2 separate regions of the Homo sapiens genome follow, and region 1 is linked to region 2. The links come from fine-mapping of genetic effects on plasma protein levels. Region 2 holds a variant in brackets. A gene starts in the other region. All regions are shown on their reverse strands.

Region 1 (14,295 bases), not on the chromosome of region 2:
TTGCTTGAACCCAGGAGGCAGAGGTTGCAGTGAGCCGAGATCGTGCCACTGCACTCTAGCATGGCGACAGAGTGAGACTCTGTCTCAAAAAAAAAAAAAAAAAAAAAGGCTGGGCGTGGTGGCTCCCGCCTGTAATCCCAGCACTTTGGGAGGCTGAGGCGGGCAGATCACCTGAGGTCGGGAGTTCCAGACCAGCCTGACCAACACGGAGAAACCCCGTCTCTACTAAAAATACAAAATTAGCTGGGTGTGGTGGCACATGCCTGTAATCCCAGCTACTCAGGAGACTGAGGCAGGAGAATTGCTTGAACCTAGGAGGCAGAGGTTGCGGTGAGCTGAGATCGCGCCATTGCACTCCAGCCTGGGCAACAAGAGTGAAACTCCATCTCAGAAAAAAAAAAAAGTACATTCTTGGCCGGGCGCAGTGGCTCACGCCTGTAATCTCAACATTTTAGTAGGCCAAGAGTGGGTGGATCACTTGAGGTCAGGAGTTTGATACCAGCCTGGCCAACATGATGAAACCCTGTGTCGGCCAGGTGCGGTGGCTCACACTGTAATCCCGGCACTTTGAGAGGCCGAGGCGGGCAGATCACAAGGTCAAGAGATCGAGACCAGCCTGGCCAATATGGTAAAACCCCATCTCTACTAAATACATAAAAATTAGCCAGGCGTGGTGGCGGGCGCCTGTAGTTCCAGCTACTCAGGAGGCTGAGGCAACTTGAACTCAGGAGGCAGAAGTTGCAGTGAACCAAGATCGTGCCACTGCACTCTAGCCTGGGCAACAGAGCAAGACTCCATCTCAAAAAAAAAAAAAAAAAAAAAAAGAAACCCTGTCTCTATAAAAATTAAAAAAAATTAGCCAGGCATGGTGGTAGTCGCCTGTAATCTCAGCTACTCGGGAGGCTGAGGCAGGAGAATCACTTGAACCCAGGAGGCGGAGGTTTCAGTGAGCCGAGATCACGCCACAGCACTCCATCCTGGGTAACAGAGCAATACCCCATCTCAAAGAAAAAAAAAAAAGTACACTCCTCCACCCTATCCACTCATCTGTGCCTGTTTTATTTTTCCCCATAGTTCTTACCTCCCTCACTACTACATACTTTACTTTTTTTTTTTTTTTTTTTTTTAAGAGTCTCGCTCTGTCACCCAGGCTGGAATGCAGTGGCGCATGGTCACAGCTCACTGCAGCCTCGAACACCTGGACTCAAGCCATCCTCCCACCTCAGCCTCCCAAGTAGCTGGGACTCCAGGTGCACACCACCACGCCTCGCTAATTTTAAAAAACTTTTTGTGGAGATAAGGTTGCTTTGTTGCCCAGCCTGGTCTCAAAGTGATCTTCCCATCTCACCCTGCCAAAGTGCTGGGATTACAGGTGTGAGCCACTGCGCCCAGTCGACTTACATCTCTTGTTTATCACCTGTCTCCCCCAAAGAGAATGTCAGCACCATGAGGATGGGAGTCTGTTGTACTCCCTGCCATATCCCCAGTGCCTTGAGCAGGGCCTGGCACACAGCAGGCGCTCAATAAATCGCTGGAGAACTATGAATGGGAGGGTCAAGGTCTAGGGCAGGAAGCTGGCCTGGGGCTGCAGGTGGATTCCCTGTGGCCTGGCAGATGTCTCTTTTTTTTTTTTTTTTTTTTTTTTTTGAGACAGAGTCTTGCTCTGTCGCCCAGGCTGGAATGCAGTGGCTGAATCTTGGCTCACTGCACCCTCAGCTTCCTGGGTTCAAGTGATTCTCCTGCCTCAGTCTCCCAAGTAGCTGGGACTATAGGCATGTACCACCATGCCTGGCTAATTTTTGTATTTTTAGTAGAGGAGGGGTTTCACCACGTTGGCCAGGCTGGTCTAGAACTCCTGACCTTATGTATACCCCCCATCAAATGCAACCCCTCTGCCTGTGTCCCCTCATCCCACCTGACCCCTCTGCCTCTGCCTGCCCTATCCCACCCTGATCCCTCTGCCTGTGCCCTGACCCTGGCCCTGACCCCCCTGGGCCTCTCCCCTGCTGGCTCTGACCCCTCTCCCCCAGTGCCTCCCCATCTGGTCCTGACCTTTCTTTCTTTTTTTTTTTTGAGACAAAGTCTTGCTCTTGTCACCCAGGCTGGAGTGCAATGGTGTGATCTCAGCTCACTGCAACCTCCACCTCCCAGGTTCAAGTGATTCTCCTGCCTCAACTTCCCGAGTAGCTGGGATTACAGGCACCTGCCACCACGCCCAGCTAATTTTTGTATGTTTAGTAGAGAGGGGGCTTCACCATGTTGGCCAGGCTGGTCTCGAACTCCTGACCTCAGGTCATCCGCCCGCCTCGGCCTTCCAAAGTACAGGGATTACAGGCATAAGCCACCGAGCCAGGCCTGGCCCTGACCTTTCTGAGCTGTCACTGTCTGGAAGTGGGTCTGTCTCCCCACCCCCACCCAATGAACTGCCTCCGCCCGCCTCGGACTCCCAAAGTGCTAAGATTACAGGCGTGAGCCACTGCGCCCAGCCAGATGCCTCCTTTAGCTTGTGTGTTTTTGCATCTTTCTCTCACTCTGTTTCTCTTGTCATCACATGTTCAGTGTCTATCTCCACACCATCTCCCCCATGCCCAAGAGGCCGCCCTGCCTCCCTAAAGCCCCCAGTGTCCCACCTGGCTCCACAGAGCTCAGCAGCCACACGGCTGAGGGGCCACGGCCTGGGCACTCCGAGGCTGCCGAAGCTGGCGGAGGGACGCATCCCCGTACTGAATGCCAGAGCCCATCCTCTCCGGGTCTAGCTCGCCTGTGGGGAAGGGGAGAGGTCAGCATTGGTTGCCTGGAGACCCCCGGGCCTGCCCTTCGCTCCCACTCGGGCCGGTCGGGGCCTCACCTGAGTCAATCTTGTTGAGGATAGTGCGGGCACACTTGAGGAACGCCTCCTCCACGTTCTCGCCTGTGAGAGCGCTGGTCTCCAGGAACATCAGCTCTGCAGGGGCACACACTCTGAGGTCAGGGCCCCAGTTAGTCCCCACCCTCCACTGAGCTCTCACCTGCTGACTCTCATCCTGTTCCTCCAATGTTCCATCCCCCCTTACCCTCACCTCAGGCCTCTGCGCATGCCATTTCCCTGCCACTAATGTCCGCTTCCCGATATGCCCACCCAGCTCTTCCTTCAGAGCTCAGCTCACACAGCTCCTCCTCCAAGAAGTCCTCCCTGACTTCCTGGGCTGAGTCAGGTACCGACTTAGGGCTCCCACAGCTTCTTGTGGCCCCCTATCCTGGCCCTGACCCCACTGCTTGTGCTTCCTCATCCTGGCCCCAACCCTCTGCCTGGGTCCCCATCCCACCCCTGACCCTTCTGCCTGGGCCTGCCCCATTCCTTTCCTGACCCTTCTGCCTGGACCTGCCCCATTCCACCCCTGACCCTTCTGCCTAGGCCTGCCCCATTCCACCCCTGAGCCCTCTGCCCATGCTCCCCCATCCCATGCAACCGCTCTGCCTGTGCCTCCCAAACTTGGCCTTGACCCCTCTACCTGGGCCCCCCATCCCACCCCAACCCCTCTGCCCTTGCCCCCCATCCCATGTAACTCCTCTGCCTGTGTCCCCTCATCCCAACTGACCCCTCTGCCTCTGCCTGCCCTATCCCAGCCCTGACCCCTCTGCCTGTGTTCTCCATCCCACCCCGATCCCTCTGCCTGCCCCCCCAGTACTGGCCCTGACCCTCTGGGGCTCTCCCCTGCTGGCTCTGACCCCTGTCTCCCGGTGCTTCACCATCAAGCCCTGACCTTCCTGAGGTGTCACTGTCTGGAAGTGGGTCTGTCCTTCCACCCTCACCCACTGAACTGTGAGCTCCATGAAGGTTGGGCCTAGGGCTGTCTCCAACACTGTGTCTCTAGCACCATCTAGGACAGGAACAGGCCAACCAGAGTCTACCCATCAGCAGCATGACAAGGCCCCACAGTCAGAAAATCAGAGCTGAATTCACACCCACACCTCTCTGATGGCAAAACCTCCTTTAAACCTGGAGGTTGCAAAACAGGGGAACACAGGCAGATCTCAAGCCACCAGATGTGGGTGGTTTGGCCAACACAATGTTTTCAAATGAGTTTATACTTGCAAACCTTTTTTGTTTTTTTCTTTGAGACAAAGTCTCTCTCTGTCCCCCAGGCTGGAGTGCAGTGGTGTGATTGCAGATCACTGCAGCCTCGAACTTCTGGGCACAAGTGATCCTCCTGCCTCAACCTCCTGAGTACCCCAGACCACAGGCACATACCACCACACCCAGGCTTTTTTTTTTTTTTTTTTTTTGTAGAGGCAGGGTCTCACTCTGTTACACAGGCTGGTCTAAAACTCCTGATCTCAAGTGATGCTCCTACCTTGGCCTCCCAAAATGCTGGGATTACAGGTGTGAGCCATTGTGGTTGGCCCTTGCAAACCTTTTGGTGTGGGTTGTCAGTATGCTGCACTCCCCTTAACACCAGTACCTGTTACTCAAGGATCTACCCCATCCCATCTCCTGTATTCAAAAATGTGCCTTTCACCGGGCGCAGTGTCTCACGCCTGTAATCCCAGTACTTTGGGAGGCCGAGGCAGTCGGATCACAAGGTCAGGAGTTCGAGATCAGCCTGGCCAATATGGTGAAACCCCGTCTCTACTAAAAATATAAAAATTAGCCAGGCGTTGTGGCGCACACCTGTAGTCCCAGCTACTCGGGAGGCTGAGGCAGAAGTTGCAGTGAGCCGAGATTGCGCCACTATACTCCAGCCTGGGCAACAGAACAAGACTCCGTCTCAGAAAAAAAAAAAAAAAAGTGCCTTTCACCTAGGGCCATCTAGGGTTGCAATCTCTACATTAAACCAATACCCAGGAAGGTGCGGTAGGAGGAAAAAATAAATAAAATAATTAATTTAAAAAACCAATACCCTGTGCGGCCTCCTGACGGTAGGCGAAACCTTAGCGGCCAACATTAATCTAGCACCCACTCTGTGGCGGGTGCTAAGGACTTTCCACAATCTCCCTTAATCATCACAGCACACTGTGGGGCAGAAACACTGTGATCCCACTTTCCAGATGAAGAAACTGAGAACCAGTGTAATCACATAGCTCACTGATGGCAACACTTAGTTTTGTTGTTGTTTTGTTGTTGTTGTTGTTTTTGGAGACAGTGTCTTGCTCTGTCTCCCAGACTGGAGTACAATGGCGTGATCACAGCTCACTGCAGTCTTAAACTCTCAGGCTCAGGTGATCCTCCTGCCTCAGCCTCCACTGTAGCTGGGACTACAGCCATGAGCCACCACACCCAGCTAATTTTTTAAATTTTTTATAGAGATAGGATCTCACTGTGTTGTCCAGGCTGGTCTCAAACTCCTGGGCTCAAGCAGTCCTCCCACCTTGGCCTCCCAAACTGCTGGGATTACAGGTGTGAGCCACTACACCCAGCCAACACTCAAATTTGAACCCAGACTTCTGAACCTCCACGTTCCCCTGCTGGGTACAGCCACTGAGAGCCAGTAAACCCATGGTCCCTGTGGACTGTCCACCCCCACCACCACCTGGTCCACGACACAGCCCTCACCATTCTCCTGGGCAAAGCGGGAGGCCTCCAGGAAAGTGACCTCCCGCTCAGGGTCCAGGTCCTTCTTGTTGCCACAGAGGATGACCACGATGTTGGGGCTGGCCAGGGTGCGGGCATCCGTCAGCCAGGCAGCCAGTGAGTTGTATGTCTCCCGGCTGTGGAGAAGGGAGAAGGGAGGGAGGCAGTGCAGGAGAGGAACCACCCATGCCCTACCCCACCCACCCCGGGCACCCACCTGGTGATGTCGTACACCAGCAGGGCTCCAGCCGCCCCTCGGTAATAACTCCGCGTCACTGACCTGTGGGGCCAGGGGGACCCAGTCACCCCCAAGGCTGGGGTCTGCCCCGAGAATGCCCCCCTCTACAGAGACAGACTGGTGGTTCGGAGGCCCCCCCCTTCACTGCTGGCCCATCCCCCAAAACCTGGCCTTGGTCGGGTCACCATGCAATTCCTCTCTCTTCTTGCATCCTTGAAGTCCCTCTCTCTTCGCCTCTCTCAGCTTCTATCTCACTTAGCTGGCCAGCTGTCTCTATTTATGAATCTCCATTTTTGTCTCTCCCTGTGTCCCTATCTTTCCATTCGTCTGTTTTTCTCTCTGTGTCTCTTTCATGTGTGTCTTATTTTTTATTTTTTTGATGGTCTTGCTCTGTAGCCCAGGCTGGAGTGCAGTGGTACGATCTTGGCTCACTGCATCCTCGACCTCCTAGGCTCAGTATCCCAACGGAGAGATCCTCCCACCTCAGCCTATGTAGTGTCTGGGACTACAAGTGTGCACCACCACACCTGGCTAATTTCTTAATATTTTTTGTAAAGATGGGGCTTTGCTAGGTTGCCGAGGCTGGTCTCCAACTCCTGGGCTCAAGTGATTCTCCTGCCTTAACCTATGTGTCTTTTTCCTTTTTCTTTTTTTTTTTTTTTTTTTTTTTTTGAGTAGGAATCTCACTCTTGTCTCCCAGGCTGGGGTGCAGTGGCATGATCTCGGCTCACTGCAACCACTGCAACCTCCACCTCCCGGGTTCAAGTGATTCTCCCACCTCAGCCTCTCGAGTAGCCAGGATTACAGATGCACGCCACCACATCAGGCTAATTTTTGTATTTTTAGTAGAGATGGGGTTGGCCATGTTGGCCAGTCTGATCTCGAACCCCTGAGCTCAAGTGATCCGCCCACCTTGGCCTCCCAAAGTGTTGGGATTACAGGCGTGAGCCACTGTGCCCGGCCCTACATGTCTTTTATTGATTGATTGATTGATTGATTGACTGATTGAGATGGAGTTTTGCTCTGTCGCCCAGGCTGAAGTGCAGTGGCGTGATCTTGGCTCACTGCAACCTTTGCCCCCCGGATGCAAGTGATTCTCCTGCCTCAGCCTCCCAAGTAGCTGGGATTACAGGCATGCACCACCACGCCCGGCTAATTTTTGTATTTTTAGTAGAGATGGGGTTTCGCCATGTTGGCCAGTGTGGTATTGAACTCCTGACCTCAAGTGATCTGCCCGCCTAGGCCTCCCAAAGTGCTGGGATTACAGGCGTGAGCCACCGTGCCTGGCCCTATTTAATTCCCTATTTCTGTCTTTTTTGTTTGTTTGTTTCATCTCTGTGGCTCTCTCATGCTTACCTTTGCCTTCCCATGCATTTGTGCATTCATTCATTCAACATTTTCTGAGCAAATCTCCCCTTTGCCTGGCCCTGCCCAAGCACTATACAACATCTGCTTATCCTTCTCCTGCTGTGTCAGGTGGAGTCTCCTTCCCAGTGTAGCCAATTCTGCATTCTCTGTCTCACCAGTCTGGGTCCTTCTGGAACTCATGCAATCATTCCACAGCATTTACTAAGCACTCACCGTAAACCTAGCCCATGCTACACACCTGTCTATCCTTCAGCCCCTCTCTCTGCCTTTGGGCTCTGTGCACCTCAGGCAGTTAATCCATACGCAAGAATTAACTCAGCAGCTACTAGATGCTGCCATAGATCACACTTTTCCGTGGACTGAATTCCCTCTATTTCTCTCCCTGCTCTCTGTTTCTCCGACTCTCCTAAGGTTTTTTTTTTTTTTTTTTTGAAACGGAGCCTAGCTCTGTCGCCCAGGCTGGAGTGCAGTGGCGCGATCTGGGCTCACTGCAAGCTCCGCCTTCTGGGTTCATGCCATTCTCCTGCCTCAGCCTCCCAAGTAGCTGGGACTTCCAGCGTCTGCCACCACACCCAGCTAATTTTTTGTATTTTTAGTAGAGACGGGGTTTCACCATGTTAGCCAGGATGGTCTCGATCTCCTGACCTCGTGATCCGCCCGCCTCGGCCTCCCAAAATGCTGGAATTACAGGCATGAGCCACCACGCCCGGCCTCTCCTAAGGTTTCTATGTGTCTATCAACTTTTCTGCTCTGCAGGCATTTCCTGAAGACCTACAGTGTGTTGAGCCCTACGCATTTCTCTCTCTCTCTCTCCCACAACACGTCCATTTCTCCATCTCTCTTTTGGAAAGATGGGATTTCACAATGTTGCCCAGGCTGGTCTCAAACTCCTGGACTCAAGCGGTTCTCCTGCCTTGGCGTGTGTGTCTTCAGTTCCCTATTTCTCACTGTCTCTCTTTCTGTTCCATCTCTGTGGCTCTCATGCTCACCCTTGCCTTCCCGTAAATTCGTGCATTCATTCATTCAACGTCCAACTACACCTGTCTGACTCACCCTGTCTCCCTCTCTGCCTCTGACCTCTGTTTCTCTGTGTCTCCTCACCTCCCTTATTTATTTATTTATTTATTTATTTATTTATTCATTTATTTATTTATTTATTTATTCAGAGACAGAGTCTCGCTCTGTCACCCCGGCTGGGGTGCAGTGGTGCGATCTTGACTCACTACAACTTCTGCCTCCCAGGTTCAAGCAATTCTCCTGCCTCAGCCTCCCAAGTAGCTAGCATCCACCACCACAGCCTGGCTACATTTTTTGATTTTTTTTTTTTTTTTTTTTTTTTAGTAGAGACACGGTTTCACCATATTGGCAGGCTGGTCTTGAACTCCTGACTTCAAGTGATCCACCTGCCTCAGCCTCCCACAGTGCTGGGATTATAGGTGTAAGCCACCGTGCCAGGCCTCCTTACCTCCCTTATCATTCTCTTCAACTCTCTTAGTCTCTGTCTCTCTTGCTCTTTTCCTTTCTGAGTGTGAGTCTCTCAAGTTTCCCCTTCTCTTTCTGTTTCGGTGTCTCTCAGTCTCCATCCCTTTCCCCACCCCCAAGCCACTTTTCTCTATCTCTTTTTCTTTCTTTGAGATGGGGTCTCACTATGTTGCCCAGGCTGGTCTCAAACTCCTGGGCTCAGGCAATCTTCCCACCATGGCCTCCCAAAGCACGGGGATTACCGGCATGAGCCATTGCGCCTGGCCCCTACCTCTTTTTCTTCCACCATCTCTTTATCTCTCCAGTACTCCCTCTCTCCTTGGATATATATACCTGCTAACTACGGTGTCTCATCTCTCTCTGTCTGCCTTGTCTGCCCTCTCAGTGTCTCCAAGTGACTCTACACACACATCTCTCTCTTTCCTTCTCACTCTCTCTCCCCATCACCCTTGGGAGCCCAGCCCACCTACCGAAACCGCTCCTGGCCAGCCGTGTCCCAAATCTGTAGCTTCACAGTCTTCCCACCCACGTTGACCACCCGGGATCCAAACTCCACGCCGATTGTGTGGTTGGAGTCCTGTTTGACTGGGAGTAGGAGGAACAGAAGGGGCAGTACAGGGAGAGAGGAGACAGCTCAGAGGATCCCCCATCCTCCAAGGCCCTCTCAGTCTCTACAAACCCATTCTCCTTGCTGGAGTGACTTGAGGTCAAGGAGAACCTAGTAAAGGACATACGACAAAGCAAGGACCAAAAAGCCAGCACTGGACTTGTACCTATGGCCAGCCCTGCCCTCCCCACCGGCTGCCCACCAGCCCACACCATGCGCATAAACACAGCTCAGGGTTCCCAGGACCACTGCGGGAAACTCACACTTATTCTCAATGAACTGATGAAGGAGACATGATTTGCCAGTTCCTGCACTGCCAATCACCAGGAATTTGAAGAGGAAGTCTGACCAGATGGAGCCAAAATCAGGGATACCCACAGGGAGAGAAAGATACAGGGAAAAAAGATGGATTCCAATCCAATCTCTCTCTCTAACCATCACAGTTAGAGGGAGAGAAACAGACATAGGCAGAAACAAACCAATAGGTAACAGTAACAGATAACTCTTATGTAGTACTTGCCATGTGCCAGGCACATTCTATATATTTTTTTTCAACTTTTATTTTAGATTCAGGGAGTACATGTGCAGGGGTTTTTTTGTCGTTGTTTTTGTTTTTTTGAGACAGAGTTTCACTTTTCGTTGCCCAGGCTGGAGTGCAATGGCGCGATCTCGGCTCACCGCAACCTCCACCTCCCAGGTTCAAGCAATTCTCCTGCCTCAGCCTCCCGAGTAGCTGGGATTACAGGCATGCGCCACCACACTCAGCTAATTCTGTATTTTTAGTAGAGACGGGGTTTCTCCATGTTGGTCAGGCTGGTCTCAAACTCCCGACCTCAGGTGATCCGCCTGCCTCAGCCTCCCAAAGTGCTGGGATTACAGGCATGAGCCACCGCGCCCAGCCCACATGTGCAGGTTTGTTACATGGGTCAATTGTGTGTTGTTGTGGGCCAGGAACAGTTCTAAAGGTCTTTACTCACATCAACAGCTCACATCATCCTCAGGAAAACTCTATGAGGGAGGTAGACTAAAAATTATTCCCATTTTCCGGATGAGGTAACAGGCCAGAAAGGTTAACTGACTTGCCCAAAGTGACACAGCTGGGCAGAAGTGAGATTCAAACCTAGGCCAAGGGCTCCAGAGTCCCAGATCTTAGCTATTTTGTCGCTAAAGTCTCTTGAAAGCTATTTAAACAAGGACTACGATATAGCCCTTGTTCCTCTTCACCTCCTACCACCCTCTGACTCATTCACTCCACTATAGCTCCTGACCTTCAGTCTATTCCCTGAAAATGACAAGCTGGTTCTCACCTCAGGGTCTTTGCACTCTTCTCCCTTCTCTTCTATATTTGTTGAGTGAATGCGGCTCCCTCTGACTCCTAAACCTGCACTTCCCCTGCCTCCAATCACCACCTCCTATGGTGCATCCCTACTGATTTTCCACTTCCCGACCTCTCCTTCCCTCCCTCTGCCCAGAACCCGGCTCCATTCTCATGCATAAGTCCCACCCTTTGCCACTAAGTCCTGCCCCTAACTCAAGGACAGCCCATCCCCAAACCCATTCCAGAGCTCTCTCCAGCCAGATCAGCCCCAGGGTCCCGAGCTTCCATTCAGTGTTCCCTCTAGCCCATAAGCCCGACTCCTGCCATTCATGCAGTCAGCCCCGCCCCTTCACTCAGGCTCCGCCCAGATCCATTAAGGCCCACCTCTTCCCTCAGGGCCTCCCTGAACCCCTCAGGACCAGCTCCCTCAAATCCCGCCCCAGATCTATTTAACCCACGCACCAGACCCTCAGGCTCCACCTAAATCGATTAAGCTCAGCCTCAGACCCACTAAACCCCTCCCAGCATCCACTTAGGTCCTGCCTCCATCACACCAGACCCCGCCCCCTGATCTACAAAGCCCCGCCCATTCCCACAGGCCGCATCCTCCCTGGGCCCAGACCCAGGACCCCAGCTTCGTCCACCACCCTCACCGTAGGTCTCAGCCATGACTCGGTCGCGGCCGCTGAGGGCCGCAATATGGCGCCGCGGCCGCGCCTGCTCCTCGGCTGGCAGCCGCTCCACTCCGGCTACAGCCCCGGCTCCTTCCTACTCCCCGGGCCCGGCACCGCCACTTCCGCCTCCGCCCCCCTCCGGCGCGACCCGCTCCGGCAGCTGGATACCAGGCGACGCTTTCCGAAGGGCGGGATTGGCGGACTCGCGGGCAGGGGGCGGGACAAGAGGCGCGGATTGGTGGCGTGAGAAGGACCAAGCCCAAAGGGGCGGGGCCGAGCCCAGCGATTGGCTGAGCAAGTGGGAAGGGACGTGCAGAGCTGCTTAGCTGAGCCGAGGAACGGATTTAGTCTGGAGTACGGGGGGCAGAGTCGAGTCTCCGGATTGGATCGGAGCGGACTTGGGGGAGGGGATACAAATGCAAAGAAGGGGGCACGGGCAGGATTGACAGAAAGAGGCTGGAAGAGGAGCTGATCTTGAGCTGGCGGGAGCGATTACTGTTCTCAAAGGCGAAAAGGAGGAAAACTGGGCAGATAGGCGCAGGTTACTTCCCACCTCCCTTTCCAGATAATCTTCCAAGAAAACCTTTACTGTGCGATTTATATCCTCCGCGTAGTCCGATTGGCTCCCTCCCACTGGTCTAGAGAGGACACTACAATCCCCTAGTTGGGCTGCTTAGGTTTTCCTTTGCTTGTGTCCGAAACCTAAGCTTAGGAGCGCTCCTACTGCACAGGGCTTTCATCAGTGAAACTCTGCCTAGCAACCACTGACGTTACCACAGGCAGCGGGTTAATTGGTTAGATTCAGCAACCTAGAGAAACATTTCATTTGTACAGTCCCCACCCTACCCTACCCCACCCCAAAGACCACGGAGACGAGCCGTTTGCACTGGGCTGATTGTATTTGCATAAAGCCAAGGAGGGGAAACGGCAGGGCCAGCGGTAGGCTGAGCTCACTGGCAGTAGAAATCCCATTTCTGAAAAAGAGAAAGGGGAAACAGTGGAAAGAAAACCAGCGGTCACACCACAAAGGATCTAGTGGTTTTAGCAAAGGCTGCAGCTGCAGGGCCCAGGTCTGGCCACACAAGTGCTATGCAAATTAGCCTAGAGCCCTCTAATCTTTGCACCTCCCAACTGGACCCATTTTACTGGTGAGAAAATTGAGGCAGGGAAAGAATTTCTCCCAGCGCACATACCTAGGCTGCCAGGGAGCCAAGTGTGGGAGCATTTTTGCCCATCCCCACAACCTAAGGGTCCTCCCCCCACATTTCTTGCCAGCCCCCATGACACTCACGTCTGTCTTCACATCGACTTTGCCAGGTTTCAGGGTCTGGTCCTCTCGGACAATGCTACTGGGGAAATAGCCCAGGCGAGCAGCCAGATCTCCATAGTAATCTCCCTGAACCTGGGGAAGAGGAGTTAAAAGCTAGGGTCTGGGAAGATGGCAAGCTTGTGCCTGCTGAAGGCCTTTGCATTCTCCCTTCTCCCTGATCTCCACATAACTGCTCCATCCTTGTCATATGAATCTCAGCTTAAATGCCACCTGTTCAGAGGCCCTTTCTGAACACCCAAGTAAGTCTCTGTTAATTCTCACAGCAGCGCATATTTGCTTTTATTATTATTATTATTTTGGAAACAGGGTCTCATTGTGTCGCCCAGGTTGAGGTGCAGTAGCATGATCACGGCTCACTGCAGCCTCAACTTCTGGGATCAAGCAATCCTCCCACCTCAGCCTCCCGAGTAGCCGGGACCACAGACACATGCCATGAAGCCCAGTTAATTTTAAATTTTTTTTTATAGAGATGGGGGTCTTGCTATGTTGCCCAGGCTGGTCTCGAACTCCTGGGCTCAAGCTATCCTCCCAACTTGGCCTTACTTGGGATTACAGGTGTGAGCTACTGTGCCCGGCTGCTGCTATTTTTTATGCCTTGCTTTTTGTTCATTTCCCTCCATTAGAATAAAAAGGATCATTTGTTGTTGTATCTTGGTGTCTAGAACAGAACGTGGGACCATATCAGGTCCTAAAATTGGTAAATAAAGTGAAAATAGGCTGGGGGGCAGTGGCTCACACCTGTAATCCCAGCACTCCGGGAGGCCAAGGCGGGCAGATCATGAGGTCAGGAGTTCAAGACCAGCCTGGCCAATATGGTAAAACCCTGTCTCTACTAAAAATACAAAAATTAGCCAGGTGTGGTGGTGCATGCCTGTAATCCCAGGTACTTGGGAGGCTGAGGCAGGAGAATCGCTTAAACCCAAGAGGTGGAGGTTACAGTGAGCCGAGATCGTGCCATTGCACTCCAGCCTGGGTGACAGAGCAAGACTCTGTCTCGGAAAAAATTAAAAAATAATAAGCAAATAAAATAAAGTAAGTAACAATATCCCCCCACAATGTCTATTTCAGTTCACCCCCCTCAAATCTTCCCTTCATGGGGATAATGAGTCTACCCCAGCTCTGTACCCTTCCCTCTTTCACTCTCCCAAGACTCACGCTGCCTCCCCAGAAGAGCCGCCCACGGCCCTTCAGCTTGGAGAAGACATACACCACTTGGCCCCGGTGAATGGTCAGGAATCGGCAGTCGGGGGCCATGTAGTCCTGAAGGGCCACAGCCATGGAGATAGGGTCTAGGGAAGGAATAGAAGGGAATGCAGCACCCTCCACACAGGCTAACGCCCAAGCCCCCAATTCTCCCCTCCCCATTCTTACGGCTGCACTCCTGGTCCGCACACAGCTTCCGGTCAGCCAGCTTGGGCATAGGACCACCCCTGACACCAGGTCCGGAGAAGGCAGACAGCAAGATGATGACACCAAGGCACACCAGGGACCGGGCCATCGTGGACTGTGAGCAAGAGAGTGAGCAAGGGGGTGCTGGGGTCTCCAATTTCCTCCCCTCCCTCTCTCCCGTAGTACAAGGAAACTTGTGTTCTTGGTCTTGTCCCCGCCCTAAACCAGTCCCAAACTTCGCCCACACCACCTAGAAGTTGCTATGAAACCAGAACCATTTCAAGGATAGGGTAAAGGCTGTAAGCCCAAGGAAATTCCCAGATAAGGTCCAAAGCAGC
Region 2 (15,294 bases):
AGTGCTCCCAGGACGTATGTCCCCATGTCATGGAATGAAGTAATGGATATAGATTACTGGATCTCTGTGGACCACACCTTTCCTGTTCACTTCTCACCAGAAAATAGTCTGGTTAGGCTAATCACTATAGATTGATTCAGTTACTGGCCTATGGTAGATGGAGCCTCTTTTCTCACTAGCCAACCTTGGTAGTGGTAACCCATCCCACAGGTCCCAACTCATCAGCACTAGGATGCTGTCATCTAGAAGACCTGCAAGAGAGCTCCAAGGCCAGTTCATGAGAATCATATTGAGATCAGGATCTATCCTACATGCCAAACCCATGAAATACACAGTTTATTATTTGAAAATTCATAATTGAAAAGCACTGAGAGGAAAGGGACATAGTAAATATGTCAGGGTATTTGGACTTATGCAGATGTGGTTTTGATGTTCAAGTCTACATTACCTTGGGTAACTTTATTTACCTCTCTGAGCCTAAACATCCCCATACAATAGTCATAAAAATATCTGGATTAAATATAACATAGATTACATCTAGAATTACTAATTCTAATTACTACTAAAATCAGAAGTAATGTATGTAAAAATATCTCATGGAGTACTTGGTACGTAGAAGAAGTACTTAATTCTTTAGGATGATTATTATTATGAGAGTCTTAGATTCAAGGAGAGGGAAAAAAACTCAAGACAAAATGAAAGTTATATTCTCCCTTTTTGGAGAATTTGAAAAATTACTTTATTTTCTGAAGGCTCAATTTGATGGTTTGAAAACAGCCCTAATTACAGCTCCATCAGCCTCAATTTTTTGATAGATTCAATTTGTAAGAAAAAACAAAAGGTTTTCTCTTACCCTTCTCAGCGACATCCCTAAGGGAATTCTTCTATACATCTGTGATACACATATTGAAAAGAACTCATGTTTGGCCTTAGTATCTACTTTCAAAGTTACTAAAATGTGATTTTTTTCCTACATTTTTTAAAAAATGTAGCATTTGGAAGAAAGGTCATTTTATCTATCAGGGATTATAAAAGCACTACAGAGAATGTTTCAAGGAACTACAAAAAATGACCTAGAAAACAATTATTGGTTCCAAAAAACTAAAGCCATACCATGCAAATTTATAAATATTTAACTAATTGTATCAAGAAAAAAACGTGATGTAACTATTCAATCTGTTTTCATCATGGATTTAACTTAGCTTAATTAGCTTAGTACACTTGTGGGTATCATAAGGGTATTAAAAGTGACAATAAGATGATGTGAACCATGTCATACAAAAAGCTTGACTGGCGTACAATTGAGCATCAAATTTAGTTCAGAGTTTTTTGGGTGACAAGTCAAACTGAGAAGCATGGTGAATTTTTAGCCTGTCTTTTTTCTAACCAAAAAAACCCACTAGTTAATCAGAAGAGATATACTTTAAAAAATTCCTAGCAGTCTAGGCAAAAAGGAATTTATCATGGAAATCCTTATATAAAGAATTTGAAACGCATAACATAAGGTGCCAAGATATTTCTTTCCTTTTCAGCTCATCTCTTTTATATTGACTCTCAGTAGTTAAAAAGGGGGGGTATCATATTAAAGCATAGTGTAATAAAGACATTTTGACATTTTAACAAAAAAGTATTGTAATGTGATTATAGTAAGTACATTTCCAGTTATGTAATTTGATATAGATAGAGAGTTTAGAAAACTTAGAGCAATTAGCGATTGGACTATTATTCTTAAATATCAGTGATAGTAGTTCCAGGCTTTTCAGAGATGCTGAATAAGGAGGAACTTGAGCTTTCAATCCCTGGCTATACCCTGAACCACACGTATGAATTCTTGATCAAAATACGTATTATCCACGTGCTAACTGGCAGTATGCACATGACAAAGGTAACATTGCTCTGAAAATAAAATAAGCCCATATGTATTTTAGTCTAAACAGTGTGTAAGCCCCTTTCTACATATTAGCAAAAATAACTGCAGACAAAGAATTTTTTTCAGGAAGAAACTTTGGATTTGCCTCAGTGCTCAAATGAGATGAAAGGAAAATCAATACAATAAAGAAACTATAACATGAAAGAAGCTGCCCCTCTAAATTTCCTCTTCTCCATCCAGCTCCACATTCTCCTTTAATTAATTTCCCTCAAGCACCAGCACTCCAGATAATTATTAAATAGCCAAAATTAGTGTTTCTATTTTATTTGATTAATTAAGACTATTGCCCATTCAATAAGCAGGATCTCCAAATTTAACTTCATTATTAGTCTTCACAGCCAAATCCAGGACCTCCCACTTGGATTTCACAGATTACAGATTTTATAGTACAATATAAAACACAGTTGTGGAAAATGTATATCTATTATAATTGTTTCTATTTTCTTTAAACTCAAGTGTATTTTGTGATGTCCAAAAGAAAAAGATGATTTCACAGTAGTTTTTGTTTGTTTTGCTTTTGCTTTAGATATGCAAAAGCACAATATTTCATCTATTATAGAGATTAAATAGGCATGTGTGGGGTGGTATGGAAAGTGGATTATGTTTTGTAGCATTGTTATATTTGGAAAATGAACTCTAAGACCAAATAGACATTTTTTAAATGGACTTCTGAGATATAACTATCTTCATAAGTTGGAGTGCACCAGTATTTCATTTATTGACGACTTCACTTGCCCACTTATTGGGGAAACATTAACAGATGTGTACTATGTTTCCAACACTGGGCTGGGGGCTTGAATTCAGGTGGCTCCCCCACCACCAATCTACCCAGTGAGGAACTCACAGTAGTTGTGAGAGAGGACAGGGGAAATACATAAAAATTATTGCAACAATTATTCAAAGTATGTTCAAAATGCTATAGAAGCAGACAAGATGAAATGATTAATTCTTCACGGAATTGGGTAAGTTTTCCCGAAGGAAGTTCCACTGGAAGTGAGCCACCAAGAATCAAGAGGGACTTTCAGACAGAAGGCATTCCAGGAGAATGAATCCATGAACCAGAGATCAGAAGCCTGAACAGTGAGGAGACCTTGTACACAAAGGGGGAGCTAAAAAGAAAGGGCTTGGAAGAGCTTTTAGAAACTATACTAAAGAGTTTAAATATTGTAAGTCATTGGAATCCAACAAAGGTTTTAGATAAAGAGACTTACACAGTTAGATCTGACTTTGTAAAGATTAACTGTAGCAATGCCACAGTGGAGTGTAGATGCTGCTTTTTTGCACAAATGTACACAATAACCACTGAAAACTGAATATTCTTTGATTCTTCATCACAATAATCCCTCCACTTCCAAATGTGCTTGTACTTAGCTGCTGAAGCCATCAGAACCTTGTAAAGTTTGAGTTTGTATAGCAAAGACAGATGGGTTACCATTGCGAGACTCGATGTGAGGCTTCCACTCTTCACATGAAGAACATTAACTTCATGGCTAAGCTGACCATTTAACAACTGTATTTTTAAATATCTTTCTGTATCTGGGAGAGATCTTAGTCCTTTAGCCATGGCTTTAAGAGCAAACAGGCATCGTTCCATTTTAAATATCTTCTGCTTTTTCCTCTATAAAATGTGATCAGTGAAGAATGGATGTCTCAGGCTCTTGTTATCACCAACCTCCTCCACACCCACATGTAACCAATTGGGTGGCTGTCCCTTGTTACTGGGCTCCAGACTGAGACTCTACCTACCTTCCCCATCTTGTTTTTCCAAAGCACCCACTTGTACCAGAAACTGAAACATGGCAGAAAGAAGGAATCAGCATGACATAGCTCAATTCATGAGAAAAGAACCCTTCACTGCTGGTCAGAAAATTCACAGGAAAATAACTACAAGCGACTAAGACGGTGCTACAGCACCACACACACTAAGAACAGGAAACAAACGCACGGCCTGAACTGTACAGTAGCACCGCTTGCTTTCAGCCCTGAGAAACCAACCCAGACTTTAATCGAGCCGGAAAGAAAACACTCGTCAATGGGCCAGTAGGTCACAGTGAAAATATTAAGGGAACTGTTGGTAAACACCAACAGGGCTTTGGCTAAGACAGCAAAGTAATCATACTCGGACTACTCATCACCACCTGTTGCACATTCCTCACCCTTCCTGCCCACTCCTTACCCTTCACCCTGCAGAGTCCAAGATCACACAGTAAATAAAACCATGATCCATGAAAGCTCTCAGAGCTTTGGCCATTACTATCCCCAGCAAAAGCTGAAAGGATTTCCCTGGGGATTTCACCCAAAAACACTTTTACACTTAAATCTATGTTCTAGTCTGGAAGAATGCATTGCCATTTGTTCTGCAGTGGATTTTTTTCTAGATAACTTAATTCTTTCCCACTTCTTATCAGGCTTATATTTTCAAAATAGTTCAGATTCAGGGTATGTAAGGCACAGAAGAATATTACAGAGAAACCACCTCATCTCAAATCCAAACCCCTGAGATGAAGTAATAAAACCAAGTAATATAGTTGAAAGCCAAGGACAGTCTGAGTTTCAACAGCCCCTCCACATGCAGAAAGAATTACCGATTATTTTTCCTAGTACCATACCTCTTTTATATTCCTTCCAAATACCTCAAACTAAATTCCAGATCTGAAAAACTCAGTTTATCTCTTATCCCCACTTAAAGGTCTTCCACCAAGAATATACTGCCTGTGAATGGTAGGATGTTATTTATTTCAGAGTTTTGTCAATATTTCCGTCCTCCAAGATGTCAAAGGTGAAGTCTCTGACCACTAAGTAATGGCTCTAGAGAGAACAGATTTCTGGACTTGCTACCTGAAGGCCAGGCAGTCAGGGAAGATAAAATGGTAACTTTTATTACTGAGCTCTCTTACAAGTTGAAATATGCCCAGAAAAGAGGAAGAATTAAGAAATTTAAAAGGGGGAGTGAGATCTTCACAAGTCTGATGTGACTTTATGGCTGTTTTCTGGCTTTTTCTAATACATACATTCTGTGTGTTTTATTTTACAATGCCCAGTTCAATAGCGTCATCCATTTTTGCCCTGAAGGATTGGTTTTGAGTTCTAATTGGAACTGGGGACAGATTGTTTGTATTTAATCCGTCTGTACATCTTCTACTCAGTAACTGAGTAAAGCTCTTAAACTCTACTGCAAATATCCCTGGATTCCAATGAATTTGTCTTACTTAGTAGACATAGCAACACATATTGTTTTATTTATGTATTTATGTATAAGCAAAGCCTTAACAACTTTTATATTCCAAATACTCAGCACGATTTATTTATTTCCTTTTTAGAAAGAGATGAAACAATGATGCCGTGGAAGGTTAAAAAAAGAGTAACATAAAATGTGCTGGAAACAGAAATTACTTGGAGAAATTACTTGTTTAATTCAAATGAATTAAACGAGATATAGTCTACAAAGAAGTCTGGGCTCCCTATTACTGGTTGATGCTGAAAATCTATCTAAGGAATTCAGAGTAACATTGTCTCCCTTCTATTTGGGTACGTATAAAATAAATGTAGTCTTAAGTATTTTCTAAAAACGAGACCATATTACATGTTTATCATTAAATGTTATTTTTAAAAACATTTGGACAAAATCTTTTGAGTGGCTTCAAATTCACCAAAGATTCCCTAACGTTTTGTGTTTACAAATATATGTATATATTTTATAATATATATTTCTAATATGTAATATATTTATAAATATTTTAAAACATATTTTATACATATAAAATATATATTTTTGCAAATATATATGCTTATTATTAAAACCTATCTTTGTGCGCCTGTTACATAGGGAACTCCTATAAGATACTAGAGGAAACAAACAAGGGGAAGGGGAGGATGGATACCAAGAGAGGAAATTGAATTGTACAAAGGGTTTTTATTAATTCCATCTATTTTTAAAGCCAGAAAGACATACTACCAGCTTGCTGTCTCCCGGCACAAACATGCGCGCGCGCGCACACACACACACAAACACAGACAGGCTACATCAGCACGGGATTCCTGCGATCCCTCCCCGCCCCCCGCAGCCCCCTCCCCGCCCCCCGCAGCCCCCTCCCCGCCCCCCGCAGCCCCCTCCCCGCCCCCCGCAGCCCCCTCCCCGCCCCCCGCAGCCCCCTCCCCTGGCGCAGGCAGCCGCGTCCGTCCTTCCCGCGGTAGCTCCGCGCACTTCCTCGCGACCGCATCACCTACCTTGCTGGGAGCTCAAGACAGATGCCGGACAGGGCTGCTGCTCCGAAGGAAAAGGCTCCCAGGACCAGCAGTAAGAAAACGCAAAGAAAAAAAGGTGGTAGTGAGGCTCCTTTACTTTCCACAACAAGGGGAAGTGTTGAACTCTATGCACTGGGCTGCTCCGCAGCGCGGGTTTCGGAGGAAATAGGCGGCCGAGAGAGCTGCGCCTGCGATGGGAAGTTGGGGGGATTCCCCCAGCCACCCAGCCACCCCCGCCAGGCTCCTCTCTGGTCCCCGCCGCAGCCTTGACAGCTCCCCTGGTCTCCGAGCCCCTCCAGAGCCCTGCTGGTTTCCACCCGGAGCTGGGCTGTGTTGCCACATGCACTTGAGAAATCCTAGCAGTTGCGCAAAGAGTCCCAGAAGTTAGAAAGGGTGATTGTGTGTGAATGTGTAAATATACAGTACAAGAGGCTGGAACAACTGAGTGGGGCCAACCCTCAGACACAGCTCGAGGTTTCAGATTTCATTTGGCAACTGGTAGCTTCACAGGACTCGAGCCGCACTACAGGGGAGGCCGGCAGGAGCCCCGCCCTCCCAAAGCCTGGGTTATCTGAGAGCTGGAGCTACACCGCCTGGCGCCACTGACAGAATGCGCCCTGCCTGGTTCCTCCGCATCTGGCATCGCTCGTTCCTTTCAAGTGCATCATAGATACTTGTTGGCCACAGATCTGGGGCTGTGGGCGCGAGAAGGTTGGTGAATACATGTCTCCTGCCCTCAAGGAGCTCTGCATTTCATTGGCCAAACCCCATACACCGGTTTTACTTGCTTCTACCAACTCTGTCTCGCTAACATTTTATTTCTCCAATTAGAATTACCTGGGCCATTAAAGCAATATTCCTGGAAATGCACATTTAGATGGATGCTCTCTAACTAGAGCCTTAGAGAAATTCAAAGTATAATTACTTTCTTACGGTGGTGTAAGAACTCTCGGAGTTACACAATATGGGACAAAAGGACAAACTAGTAAACATTGTTTTGATGCAGGCCGTCTCTTCCCACCATCACCACAATGTCTGTTTCAAATTGTGATCTTACAGTTCTGGTTACCTGGCATGCTGAGTCAAATTATTTCAAAAAGCTTTGTAAAGATCTCTGTTTTAGAAACCCACTTACAGTGGATCAGTCATGCAATCCTAGCACTTTGGAAGGCTGAGGCAGGAGGATCGCTTGAGCCCAGGGGTTTCAGACCAAAATTGGCAACATAATGAGACTCCTGTCTCTATAAAAAAAAAATTAAAAAAATAAAAAAAAAGTTGGGCGTGGCGGCGTATGTCTGTAGTCCCAGCTACTCAGGAGGCTGAAGCGGGAAAATCCCTTGAGCCCAGGAGGTCAAGGCTGCAGTGAGCTATAATTGTGCCAGCGCACTCCAGCCTAGGTGACGGAGTGACACCCCCGTCTCGAACAATTACTACTGCTACTACTAATAAAAGAAACTCTCTTTTAGAAATCATCACCAGATATCCTTAAGACACAGAATGGGGGTGTCCTCACTAGGGATCTCCAGTGAGAGAGGGATATGGAAGAAGAGCAAATGTTTAGTTTTAGAAACACCAAAAATAAAAGGCTGAGTGGACACTGATATGTTTTTCCTTTTTGTCCTCTTTCTCCAAGTTCTTGGAGAAACGAATCTACCCCATCCCATGCTGAGGTCCTACTATAAACTTGATTTTCTGGTGGGAGAATTCTCAGCCCTTTAATGAATCAAATTAATTTGTGTGGGGAAAAAATTGCGTTTCATATTTCATTTTAAAAATATGTATGGAATTCCTAAGCTAGAAGTAATGTAGCTTATTTTCCAATTGGTGGGAATAAATTACCTTCATCAACCCACATGGCCTTACATGTTCTAGCAACACCCTAGCAGGTGAATGCTGATGGGCAGTTTCAGATGAAAGCTGGAAAATAACATTAACCCAAATGAAATTTGCACACATTTGATGGACTCAAAAGCCTCAGGAAGACAAGTACCAATAATTATGATTCAAGATGGGGACATTTAAAAAAACAAGGAAACTGTCATGTCAGTAATTTATTTCAGGGTCTAACAAATATTACCACAGCAGTTTAGTCTCAAAGTGATACAAAACTGAACTCAGGGTGGTTACTGGGTAGTCCCTAGTCCAAAAGATTAAGACACACCTCTAATACACACACAGGCTGTGTTCAAGGCCTTTTCCTTCCCATCTTCTGGTTCTGTCTCCACCCTTTCCAACTGATAGCACTTCATTGGTGTGTGTGATATATGTGATTATCTTAAGCTAGAAAGTACAACAGAAGGAGAGGATGGTTGTCACTTGGGGATTAGACAGTTGAGAGGATAGGAAAGGAGTTATATCCACCAATACAAGCCCCTTCTTCCCCTCCTACTTAGAAAGAGGTGGACCATTGCATTCCTTTTCTAGAAGCCCCTCAGCAAGGAGTCTGTTCCAAGAGAATATAACCTGAACTAGAAACTGCGTTGTTTTCTGGCCTCTGACTATACTGCTCCTCTCTTATTGTAGATTAGTTGGGACCAAGAGACATTCCTTATACGTATTGTGGCATCTTTAAAGGAGAGAATAAACTCTTGAACAAGACCCTTGAAACCTGATTCTAATCAGAGGAGAATGCTGATGTGACTGATACAGACTCCAGGGAGGTGGTGCCTGACATTCAGCTCACTGGATCTCTGCTCAGAACTTGCCCAGAGGGTTACTTAAAGCTGAGTTTTATCAGTCAACCTCAATTCTGAGTTAAAGGTGTGCTTCAAACAAACTCTACAAAACCCAGAAATGATTCAAGGATAAGGGCTAACTTTCCAGGATCTTCAGGTCCTAGACACCTTCAGGAAAAAAGTCTATGAAAGGTCAGTATAATGGCAGGCAGAGTTTGAAGGACTTCAGTGTTTACAGGAAGGATGTATAATACTTTAGGACCGGGGGATTCCAGAGATCTAGAAATGAAAGCAGAGGAGGAGAGAAGGAAGATAATGGCTATACTACATCTGGACAAGTTGTTTGAGTGTTGGTATTGCCAGAGTCAAGGAAAGAAACCCCCTCCATAGACAAAGCCCCCTGGACACTGATTCTATCAGGCCATTCTTTCAATGGAATTTAGTTAGGGAAACCTCAGCCAGTGTTTCTACAATTACTTTGTCTAATATTTAAAGTATATGGGTCAAATGTTACTATTAAATGAGTATGGATTAAAATGTATTTTAATGTACTTCACTAACTTAAAAATTGCAAAGTTTTTCACCAGATTCCATGTCAGATTCTTTGAAAACCTTAGCATAGAGTGATTCATTGTCATATTACCCAATTGTCCATTAATATCAGATACTGAAGCTTTTTAATTACATTTTCTTTTAAGAAAACATAAATTCCTAAGAGG[G/A]CAAAAAACACAGTAACAAAACTGAATAGTCAAGAATTGCCAAAATCCTAACATTTTCAACAAGCTCTCACCAACAATGCAGAATTTGTGTGGGTACTGGGATTTGCCAACATCTGATTTCAGGATTCAGATAGAAGGCTATGCCTTTTAAAGCATGTCTGTTTCTAAACATCTGTTCTTGTTTTTTCTTTTTATTTCCTGGTAGAAGTTTCTTTTCTACAAAGTCCAGCTTTGTCTGAATTACTAAGTAAGGTGGAAAGAGATTAAGGGAGCTTTGTGCCCACCCTCTCCAACACTTTGGATCACATGATTCAGGGAAAGATGTATTATTATTGTTAAAATGGTGGGGAAGGATCAATCCAGCTAAATACCTGTAAATAAGATAATAAAGGAGAGAAAGAGCATGATAGAAAAATAAGCTGTGGCCATGGGTCATCCATGGCCTCTATAATTCCAACACATGCCTTCTAACAGTCAACAGCTTTATAAATGAAACACATTATGTGCCCATTCAGATCCTGAGAGGAGTGTGGTATCAACCGTCACCACACTTTCTTTGAATTGACATATTTTTGGGTCACACTCTTTCATCTACCAGACCCCCAAAGTAGATGGTTCCAAAAATATCAATGATTAAATTTACTTTCTAAGTACTGTCTATTGGTTTTTGTCTAATTACAAAATTAATTAGTTCAACTCATGAAACTTGGAAGCTACAGAGAAGCTTAAAAGAAGAGATTTAAAACTGCCCATGATCTCCCCACTTAGAGATAAGTAATAACATTTTGAATATGTTGAATAAGTCCAATTGTTTTTTTTACCTCTGTGTATGTGCCTATTTTGTATAATGATTTGGATCATGTTACTAACCAAAGCAAGATCCTTTTGGCCTGGGCCCAAATTCAAACCTTAGTTTCCAATCAAGATGTTCCTTTTTGAGACAGTGTCTCACTCTGTCCACGGGCTGGAGTGCAATGGCCCCATCTCAATTCAATGCAGCCTCAACCTCCCAGGCTCAAGGGATCCTCCCACCTCAGCTTCCTGAGTAGGTGGGACCACAGGCACGCACCACAAAGCGTACATAATTTTTAATTTATTTTGTAGAGATGGAGTCTCCACAAGTTACCCAGGTCTCAAACTTCTGGGCTCAAGCGTCCTCCTGTCTCGGTCTGCCAAAGTGCTGGGCTTACAGGCATAAGTCACTGCTCCCGGTCTCAGAATGCTTCTTTTTATGCTGTTTAAACCTAACTTCAGGAATTTGCTGGATTCTGTTAAAGAATTAATCTCGGCCGGGCGCGGTGGCTCATGCCTGTAATCCCAGCACTTTGGGAGGCCGAGACGGGCGGATCACGAGGTCAGGAGATTGAGACCGTCCTGGCAAACACGGTGAAACCCCCTGTCTACTAAAAATACAAAAAATTAGCCGGGCGTGGTGGCGGGCGCCTGTAGTCCCAGCTACTTGGGAGGCTGAGGCAACAGAATGGCGTGAACCTGGGAGGCGGAGAGATCGCACCTCTGCACTCCAGTCTAGGTGACAGAGCGAGACTCCATCTCAAAAAAAAAAAAAAAAAAAGAATCTCTCGCTTTCATGATATGCAGATTTTTCTCCAATCAGCTCCCAGAGAAACTTTCTGCTTTATACCTGCTGTGGTCATTTCTAAATCCCTTACTAGTCTAGAATTTCCTTGTGCTTTGCTGACTCACAATTTCTCTAAGACAACCTTTAATATGCAGTCATTCACATTTTAGCTCACCACATTCTCTATCCTTTCTCTACTCCCTTATAAGTACAGGCATATGTGTGTGCACGCACACACACACACCATGAACATTCATATCACACATGCATACTCATAAAGTGAAATATTTCTCCAGACATGCAATTGTTCACTTATGGACTCAACTCTTAGTGTAATACTGAATGACATTTAAAATATTTAGAAATCTAATTGCACCTGAGCAGCAACAAAGTGGGCTTACTCTGACTACACATGCCATTTTGTAGATTTCAAGCATGTTCACATTTTGGAATCTTTTCTTTTCAGTTTTTTAGAAAATTAAATACTGCCATTGAAATAACACCATTCTTCTCCCAAGAATCATTATATAGTATTCCTAAGTTACATGTGTGACTTTTAAAATAGCTTCCTATTCCCTTATACTCAGGATAATAGAAAGCAAGTTACCAATAGGTTCTTCACATTCATAATTCATGTTTCTAATTGCATTGTCATGTATATTCCAAACCTTATCATCTGTCTGGGAAATCCTCATTTCGTCCTATTTTCATCATATCCCAAGCTCTTTAAATAATGGATTTTTTTGGCATCAGTTCCATTCTTTCCCTCTCTCCATTGCCTGCTTTATCTCATCTCAGATAATTTAAAATTAAAGAGAAGAACATTTACCTCATTGTACATTCTTACCCCACTGATAAAAGAATACACAGTCAAGATACAAATCTAAGCTGTTAAAACTGTTAAAGAACTCAGATCCCAGGCATAACTGATCCCATTGTTGATCAAACGTTAGATTTGATCAATATTTGGATTGCTGACTAGAAAATTGGAGCTGAGGTCATTGTTTTAAGTCATCTAAAACCAACTAGATTGTCAAGAAGATTAAAATGTTTTATTGTTATAGAGTGCAGACAGGACCATCAACTTACTCAATTATCTTCCGTAAAAACTAGATAAGAGAGTGTAAATGAATCAATATAACTCATCCAAACATATTAATAATGATAATAATAAAATAAGAAGAATATTCCTTATGGTTATTAATGTGCCTTTCCCATATGTGGTCTTTATTGCAGCAGCTATGAGAAATTTATCCTTATTTTCACTTTGCAGAAGAGAGAACAAAGAGAAACATTGTATATATCTTATTCACAATCATATAAGCTAATAAATGATGGAGAAAAGATTTGAATTTAGGCTATTCAAGTACAAAGTCTGGATTCTTTTCACTGATGTATCAGCAACAGCATCTCCCTATGCAAATAGAGACAGCACAATTTCCCTTTCATATATCACTTATATTGGCCAAGTGTTTGAAAATAATTATTATTACATTATTTTGTGAGGAGGAAGATTGTTGTTCTCCTACAGACCAATTTTAAATCCCACTTAAAGTATTAATTTTAATGTCCTACACTATCAGATCCTTTATTCAAGTTACTAACCAATAGCAAAATTAACTGTTCTTCTTCTTATTCCAACCAGTAGCAAAATTAACTGTTTTTTTCTTCGTGCTCACCATCTGTGAGAGGTGCTAATGGACAGTGAATTGGCCAAAAAGCCAAGGGGAGTATCAGCAAGTGGAATAGTAAGTGGTTCGGATAATTCATGAACTTGAAAATTAGTCCCTCAATACTGAGTGTTGTATTCAAAATCTTAAAACTAAGATCTTGAAGGGAAACTAAAATAAAAATTTTGAAATTATAAGCTTGGTTTTTTAAGACATAGTAAAGATAGGCTGAGGCTGATTATGTAAGAAGTAGTGTTGGGGATAACTAGTTCCTTAATATTTGAAAAATGACCAAACATAAACTTCCTGGAAAATCAATAAAAATAATGGAATTTTTGAAAGATTTTCAAAATAAACTAGGAGGATATTCCAAGAAGATAAATGTTAAAGGAAAGTTCAAGATGTGGGCTATTATGCAGATAAAATAGGACTACAAAATTATTGTCCTCTCCTTTTCTTTTCTTTTCTTTTCCCGAGTTTGTGTTTGAAAATGAGAGCAAGCAAGCTTTGTGAAGGCTTACTTTGCAAGAATGGCGAGCTTAGGCCGGATTGTAAGATGAGACTCAACTGGGGCTCAGGCTGGGGAGGGCAAATGGTAGCATTTCTAAATGCTGAGCAGTTTGTCTTGATGTCTTCAATGGAAGACTTTCTTCAACCTTGTGTACTTTACTCAAGAATAGACAGGTGAGTAAAAGAGGCTTCTAAATGGTGATCATGAGGAATAGTAGTCCCAAGAGTTGGAAATGGAGGCTCTTGAACTTCAGCCTAAGACACTGATGCATTTTAAAGAAAAATAGTCCTTTTGGATAGGACATTAGATGATTCCATTCAAATGTTCTCTGACTCAAACTGGGGGAAAATAATTCCAAATTCAAGAAAGGGAACTGTGGCTCGGTGTAGTGTTGCTGTAGTCCCCACTACTTGGGAGGCTGAGGTGGGAGGATCACTGGAATGCAAGAGTTTGAGGCTGCAGTGAGCTATGATTGTACCACTGCACTCCAGCCTGGGTGACAGAGTGAGACCCTGTTTCTTAAAAAAAAAGAAAAGAAAGAAAAGGGATTGAAAAATCAAAGGACAGAGAATGAGACCACCTTTTGGGTAACCTAATAATTTTAATAGTGTTATAGAGAAAGCTTCTCTGAACTGGGTTGGGGCATGGCAGTGCCCAGCATCTGTAGAAGCAATCAGCAGCAAGATCAATCCCAGCTGTTCCTTCAGGTTCAATCCTGCTGCAGGTGAGGGCTATGAGGTAAGGGAGCAGATAGCAGCACTGAGATCTGTGATGACTTCCAGGGAGAAGACATAAGCTACTCAGTACTCTGTGAGAGAAAGCTTAATTGGATGGGGATTTCCATCATTCCTGCTAGTTGGAGACTTGGAGCTTAAAGTCTAAAGCCTAGACTTTAACCAGTTCATACACATTCATTATTAAGGTAAAGTTCTCCCATATTCCTGTTTAAGGTTTTTTAAACTTCTGTCAATACTCAAGTACTATCACAAAGAATTAGAAGCACATAGGGGAAGTAGTTAAGCCCAATAATGGTAATTTCATAAAGCAGAAGCATATTGGGAGAAATTAGCAAATTCAGGAAAGTAGCTGGTTGTCATATACAGAGATGCCTCACTTACACAGGCACAAAAGTGTGTAATACCTCCTAAATGTGAGGCCCAGCGCTAGATGCAAAGTCAATTCAGATTTGTCTGTGTTTTCAAGAAATTTACATTCAATCATTAAGAATGGGTGAACAAAAAAGATTTAAAGTGAATTTTCCATTTTCCTCTAAGGTAATGCAGAAACGATGTTGCAATATGAACATTTATTCTTAGCTAACATCTAGCCTCTGAAAGTTACTAGCATCATTTTCACAGCAAACAAAAGACTTACTTCTTATACGGTAATGTTATATCATTATTTTAGACAGACTCCAGCTAAGACTTTAAACAGTATGTGAAGATATTTTGACATATTTTACATTTTTGCTCATTTGTTGTTTCAATTATCAACACATTGCTATAAAAACCAGAAGACAATGGCATAGTTAATATGAAAATTTCCCATGTAGGTTTTTCTTGGCATCCATTGCACAGAATCTCTGGTTTTGAACTGTGCAATTAAGAAAAAAACACTCTTTTATAAGTAAAGACGGAAATCTAATGATAGTATCAAATCTTCCGAAAATCAGTTTACAAACATTAAAATAATTTCTGGATTGAGCATTCCACTAAGAAAGCCTAACACAACAACAAAAATCTTTTATTTTAACATTGAGCTTTAATTGCTTATATTGCCACACTTATTTCAGCCAAAAGGTGACAAGATATATAGAAATATAATTTGTAGGCTTAAAAGTGATTCAGAAGTTGTTTATTTTTTCTACTTCTCCTTTGCTTTTGGGGGTGATTGTTGTAAACACTTCAATTTCATTGGGTCTTAATAAAATTAATTGTATAAATCAAATATTTAAGATTAAGTGCC

Which allele goes with the higher level. Positions count from the first base shown, and alleles are read on the strand shown. Strength reflects both the effect of a copy and how common the allele is.
In carriers of allele G in region 2, the plasma level of the protein whose gene starts at base 14,088 in region 1 tends to be higher than with A alone (weak association).

Evidence for each region. A credible set is the group of variants that fine-mapping cannot tell apart. PIP is the chance, under the fine-mapping model, that this variant and not a neighbour inherited with it causes the effect. Protein levels are from antibody-based Olink assays in UK Biobank. Linkage for the fine-mapping came from a reference panel and not from the study's own genotypes, which makes the PIPs less certain.
Region 1: MIA starts here. The variant in region 2 is the best candidate, but not a certain one, in a credible set for the plasma level of the MIA protein (UK Biobank, PIP 0.89).

The regions. Positions count from the first base shown.
Region 1 is chr19:40,775,314-40,789,608 of GRCh38, reverse strand. MIA (MIA SH3 domain containing) reads right to left here and starts at 14,088. Exons shown (of 4, transcript NM_006533.4): 1 at 13,940-14,088; 2 at 13,724-13,857; 3 at 12,530-12,640; 4 at 12,119-12,212. The coding sequence starts at 14,066. The coding sequence ends at 12,189. RAB4B (RAB4B, member RAS oncogene family) reads right to left here and starts at 11,362. Exons shown (of 8, transcript NM_016154.5): 1 at 11,218-11,362; 2 at 9,510-9,590; 3 at 9,110-9,224; 4 at 5,769-5,831; 5 at 5,534-5,688; 6 at 2,849-2,944; 7 at 2,631-2,761. The coding sequence starts at 11,233. The coding sequence ends at 2,646. MIA-RAB4B (MIA-RAB4B readthrough (NMD candidate)) reads right to left here and starts at 14,072. Exons shown (of 10, transcript NR_037775.1): 1 at 13,940-14,072; 2 at 13,724-13,857; 3 at 12,530-12,640; 4 at 9,510-9,590; 5 at 9,110-9,224; 6 at 5,769-5,831; 7 at 5,534-5,688; 8 at 2,849-2,944; 9 at 2,631-2,761. RAB4B-EGLN2 (RAB4B-EGLN2 readthrough (NMD candidate)) reads right to left here and starts at 11,390. Exons shown (of 12, transcript NR_037791.1): 1 at 11,218-11,390; 2 at 9,510-9,590; 3 at 9,110-9,224; 4 at 5,769-5,831; 5 at 5,534-5,688; 6 at 2,849-2,944; 7 at 2,631-2,761. RefSeq lists enhancers at 9,760-10,291, 11,179-11,248 and silencers at 11,309-11,548, 12,099-12,228.
Region 2 is chr4:85,466,423-85,481,716 of GRCh38, reverse strand. ARHGAP24 (Rho GTPase activating protein 24) reads right to left here and starts at 6,567. Exons shown (of 10, transcript NM_001025616.3): 1 at 6,158-6,567. The variant G/A (reference allele first, on the strand shown) is at 9,570.